2 separate regions of the Homo sapiens genome follow, and region 1 is linked to region 2. The links come from fine-mapping of genetic effects on gene expression. A gene starts in region 2. The other region holds a variant in brackets. All regions are shown on one strand. Distances are between the middles of the regions.

Evidence for each region. PIP is the estimated chance that this variant, and not a neighbour inherited with it, causes the effect.
Region 1: its variant is fine-mapped to the expression of FOXG1-AS1 in cerebral cortex (GTEx, PIP 0.98).

What each region holds. Positions count from the first base shown.
Region 1 is chr14:28,727,658-28,730,647 of GRCh38, forward strand. FOXG1-AS1 (FOXG1 antisense RNA 1) reads right to left here. Exons shown (of 7, transcript NR_125758.1): 5 at 1,745-1,899; 6 at 1,518-1,594. Among named protein-coding and RNA genes, the nearest start is that of FOXG1-AS1, 36 kb to the right of the region's middle. The variant A/C (reference allele first, on the strand shown) is at 1,340.
Region 2 is chr14:28,763,945-28,766,781 of GRCh38, forward strand. FOXG1-AS1 (FOXG1 antisense RNA 1) reads right to left here and starts at 1,375. Exons shown (of 7, transcript NR_125758.1): 1 at 1,216-1,375. RefSeq lists an enhancer at 1,974-2,498.

The DNA of each region.
Region 1 (2,990 bases), 36 kb before region 2:
ATGACTTAAATGCAGGGAAGAGCCAAGATTACTGAATCTAGTCAGGGAGATAATTCAGATTGCAGGCAGATGCTTGGTGTTTTCAGGGTCCCTGTCTTTAAGTTATGGCCAAGTTACTAGAAAACTGGCTTCTCTGTAGAACAGTTAATAGATTTGATTTTAAAGGCATTGTTACAGCCTTTTATAAAGTTGTATTGAAACCTGCAGAAGGTCATGTCTTCAATTCCACTAAAGATACAGCACTAATAATAGACAAAAAAAGAAAATTGGTGATATCCATAGCCCTTTCTAAAGTTTGTGATGGAATCATTATGTTATCCTGATTAAAAAAAAAATTGCTCTCCTTTGGTCAATCTGCCCCAGCTATTATCTGAGAACATCTAATCAAAAAGTGCTGGGCGACATGTTCTAACAAGAAAAGATGCAGTTGTGAGTTATTAGCTGTTGGTTGACCCTTTATTTACAGTAAGGAAAAAAAACAAACTGCAGTAAGATATTCTTTGCAATAAGATATCCTTGAATTCAGGCATATTTCTTGGGCACTGGCAATTTTAAACTTTTAATCAATAAGGATATTTGTATAATCTATCTTCATTTTACTTTATGCTCATTGACAATTAGAGAACAATATTTTCATAAGAGCAAAGAAAAGACTTATTATTCTACCTAATGAATATATCTGTGTAGATGTCAAACCCTAGAATTCTATAGGAAATTTTACTTATTTTTTCCATTCCTTTTTTAATTAAAATTTCTGATTAATTGCCTTAATCTCCAATTCTCTTTGTTGATATAAATTCAACCACAGAATAAGCAGGAATTTAGGAGTACTGCAAATGAAGAGAATTTCCATGCCTCCTTGACTCCAATTTGACAAAACGGTTTTTTTTGATATTTCTTAAGATCTACTTATATCAATCCAATTATTAAAAATAACATGGACACCTAAATACAAATTTGGCAAAATATTTATATTCAAATAATCTTAATATGAACACAATTATTTTGTTACTCTCTCTTCTTTTGCCACACTAGAAAGATAGTACACCATTCCCATCTCTCACAGAACATTTTAAAGATTAAGCTCTCCGGTGCAAAAAAAAAGGTAATATCTTTGGTGGTAATAATTCAGATTCTAGTTTCAATGAGTATCAATGTCAAATATGAAAAAATAATAGAAGGAAGGTGGAGTTTAGGACAGGATGTGGAGTTCATTCCTCTGAACATGAAATAAGAAGGGTCTAAGGAGGACCCAGAGCAGTAGGAAACTTGCTGCTTATTCCTGACAGAATTCCTGAAGGAATGACCCTGAAATTGAAGAGAAGAACGGCTGTGTGGT[A/C]CAACTGAGAAGCCTGGACTAAAGGCACAAATCAGCCAAAATGAGTTGATTGCTGGATTGACCATTGTTCTTTGGCCTAAGAATAACACAGAAGCAGCAATAAGCTGATAGACCTGAAGGAGCCATTCTCACTGGTATTCAGTATTCATAGACGATTAATGGCTTGAAATTCTCCTACCTTCAAACTATGGCACAATCCTCATTGAGGCTTGGGAAGAAGTTTTGTTTCATTGTTCACTGGCTGTTCAGGCTGTGCTGCAGGACAGAATATTACACGAGTGTAGCCAATGTTAAAAGGAGGTAAATGTCACCCGGGGGTGAAAAAAAAACTGTGTATGATTCAAGGTCTCTGAGAACAGACAACACACACTCCCACCAGGTTCAAGAAGTGCAGCATCTACTCACAGTAAGAGAGGAAAGAGTGCACTAAATCCATCCCTTTGTAATGCATCTGTCTCTCACGGCTAGCAGACTCACACCACAGCCCTCATGGGCAGTGTGGCTTTATATACCCCACTTGGTGCTTCAGTGGAAGGACCTCGACCTCTCCTCTATGGTATCTGAAAAAAAATTGTGGGGAGAGGACATGTCTGAGGACTATTGAAACACCCACTTAAGCAGAACAAAGAACTACACGTTGATTCTGAAACAGCAAAAGATATTCCCACATAAGGCCATAAGCCCAGTACTTCCTGTGTGGGCCCCCTTACCTACTGGTAAGGAAGGGTTCCATGCCCATTCTTATGTGGCCCAGTGGGAGTGAAAAGACAGCACACAGGAGAATGTCTTTCCCAAAAAGCTTCAAAAAGCATAGCTTTTGAATTGATATGCCATCATCAATTTAGCTCTTCTTCTGAATAAATTTGATGTCTCCTGCTGAAGTTGAAACCTAAACACACATTCGGAGATAGCTGAAACTAATAACGAAATAGTTTCCCTCTCTAGTGTTTTTATTCTGGTATTTGCTTTTACTCCTTCTTCTTTACAATCAGCTTCCCCAATTAAAATTTAAAATCCATTCTATTTTCCTAAATATCTTTAACCAGTGTCTGTTCAAAGTGCATGACTAACCTTTATTTAAATGTGATGACCATCTACGTCTATTTTACTTCTTTCACAAACTTCTCTACATCTTCACTGCTTCTACTTCCACTACTTTTACAGTCACTTTTACTTCTCACTAGTTCTCCTTGACATTCTGAAATCAGCTTCGGTTGATGTCGATGGAAGCTAATATGTCAAAAAAGATGTATTTGTACAAAAAGGCCACTGATTACATACACCCACATATCCTAAGAATGTTTTGCTTATTATCAGTGACTCTTTATAACTATCTCTTTTTCTCATTCTTCCTTCGTCATCCTGTTTCTGCTAACCTGTTGATTTTCAAAATGTGTGTGGACACACACACAGCTACACACCTAGACACACACACAGCTGTGTACCTAGACATACACATACACACACATCGAACCAGTTCGTCCATTTTGACTTAGTGATTTACTGGGACTATTTTTATATAAAAAATTTTCAAGACTAATCGTGAATCATAAGTGTCTCTAAACTTATAGGTTCACAAGCTCACACAGTTTTATAGCCATCTAAGCTAATTGCTTGATAGACTGAATTCAGAAAATAAATTGTTAAAATG
Region 2 (2,837 bases):
TACAGACCTGATTGAGTTAATATAATATCAGCAAATTTTACATCGAAATGATTCTGTTTCTTTTCTTTGTGTTTAAAACCAGCACAGATTACAAATTTTAATGATCTGAAAATGTTTGGTATACAAAATCATGCTTATTTCAGTATTAGCAAAAACACAAGAAATTTTTCAACACAAACACCCAGCTGTGTCTATTTTAAAAGCAGTTCAATGACAGCTTGCACTTATGAGCATGCAATCAGCTAATTTCGTTTTTTTTTTCTTCTGTGTTAATCAACACTTTCCTTCCTGCATATCAGAGTACAAATAGTATAGTTACTCCACATCAGTAAATGTTTACGTAACCTGTCCTTTCCCAAGAATCCGGTTACACCGAATCATTTCACGCTAGACCGACTACGAAAACGTACCGGGCCGTCCACCTCAGAGGGAGCCCTGTGTGCCATTATAAGTGGTGGTGAGAAGGGGGGCTGTAAGAGGAGAAATTGGGAGGAGTAGGTGGAGGAATGGAGAGACAGAGGAATGGAGGGTGGGGGGAAGGGGCGGGGGGAGCTAAGGGAGAAGGAGGGAGGAGGGAGGAAGGAGAGTTGAGGAAAAGTAGGAAGAACGGGCCTGAAGAGGGGAGAAGAGTGGGAGGAGGAAAAGTGAGTAGGAAGGGGAAGGCCCACAAATCTCTCCAGCCGGTAGGCAAAGCCCATTAGCTCACCCGGCCCTGCGAGAAATCCAGAGCTTGGAAATAAATGTTTGGGACCATGTCACTATCAACACTGATTGTTGGAACCCTTGAATTTTTCCACATGTAAATACAGTTTGTTTTAAAGTGAGAAGATATGTAGACATAGGTAAAGATACATACATACAGTGGAAGGACATTTGAGGTTAGTCCAATATTCAAAGCTCCTTTGTGGCATTCCTAATAGATGCATATTTAAAATTCACTAGCTATTTGTAATTATCTATTATTCTCTCCAGTTTCCTCCCCCCCCCCCAACCTTTTCTCTCTTTCTCTTTCTTAAGACTGGGGGTGGGGAGGATGGAATAACCCCCTATTATCCTGAGTATTCATCAACCGCATTCTTTATGTTACAATTTAACTTTAGGATCAAGCATAAGCACCAATTTTCCTTCCTTCGTTTTCTTAAATACCAAATCTGCCAGATATCTTAATGAAAGTTTATCCAAGTGAAGAAATGCTTACATTTTATAATTATTTACCTTCTAGAGGAAGGAAAAGGTGCCTTTCATTTATGCTTCTCCACCTCCCTCTTCTCTGGGGCTACATCCTCCGTAAAATGTGGTATGTTTCGTGCCCATGTGGGATGAAACAGCCTTTGATCAATGTGCTCCCCACTAAATTCCAATCCCTGGGAAATGCTGGGCCTTAGCCCTGCCCCTGGCCACGGGATCCTTTTAAAGCCCCCGATTCGCAATTTCCCCATTCACTTCAACCTCCAACCGAACCTTCCCAGTTCCAAAGCCCAAGAAGCTGGGACTGTGAGATCCACGTTCCCAAGGCTCCCCGGTGCTTTCCAGCAGCACTCAGGGTTGGCAAGAGCTGGCTTCAGTATACTGTTATTTCAGGAATGAGGCCCGCACAAAATAAAAGCATTTGAGAAACGGAAAGGAAAAAAAAGGAGTGAAAATAGGAAGGCTTAAAAAAAAAACCGGAAAGAAATAGACGCCCACCCTTATTTTCCCTCCAATGTCAACAAGCAAAACGAAAATATTTCCAGGGTGATCGCTCGCAGCTACCCGCTTCCAATTCGGATTAGAAGCTGAGGCTGGAGCGGCGAGGAGAAAACGACATCGAGTCACCCCGCGCGTGAGCGACGCTCTGGAGCAGGAGAGAAGGAAAAGGAAGAGACACACGTATATAGCATGTGTTACCTGATTTATTTCGAGATTGTTTGGTACTGTTTTCTCTCTGGGCACCTCTCATTTCGGAAGGCCATCAGAGGCGCCCACTACTGAGCGGCCCCGGCCGCCGCAGCAGCACCCGGAGCCCCAGTCCCGGTTTCCCCGCGGTGCCGGAGCCCGGAGCTCGCCGCCGCCCAGGCCTCAGGAATCGAGTAAGTAACCCCTGTTTGGCCCCGCGCTCCTCTGCCCACTTCCTCCTCCTCATCTCATCGCTCCCAAAGCTCTCCCACACCCTCCTCCCCCGAAGTAAAGGACACCCCCGCACACACGCCAGCGGTGGGCCTTATCTCCCCCCTTATCCAAAGCTGCGCTAGACTATTACCTACAAAGGGCACAATTTTCCTGCTGGCTCAGAAATGCCAGACACTGGCCTGCAAGGCCGACTCGGAAAAGTAGTGCCTCGCCTCTACCTCCTCCATTTCCTGCCCTCTCGCATCCTCTCCCTGCACTCCCACTCTTCCCACTACCACCACCACCCCCGCTTTCAAAAATAAAATTGGATACAAACTTTAATCACTAAGGACAAATATTGACGCTTAAACGAAAATGACCCAGTACAATGAGGAGGAAGCCGGAAATGTGAGCTATTGGCCCTAGGAGGGGAATTTCGGTGGAGCGGAGCCGGCGGGGTGGAGGGGGTGGCGGGGGCGCAGGGAAGGGCTGCGGCACCGCGTGCTCCCGCCGGCGTATCCCTACGCGGCTCCGCGCGGCCTCGGGGTCCGAGGCCCGCGGAGAGGGGGAGGCGAGCGCCCGAGGGGGCGGCAGCCGGCGGGCGGGGCGGGGGTGGGTGGGCCCGGCCCCTCCGATTGGTCGACGGCGAGAGAGACGCTCCCGCACGCCGCCAGCTCTGATTGGCCCAGCGGTAGGAAAGGTTAAACCAAAAATTTTTTTACAGCCCTAGTGTGCGCCTGTAGCTCGGA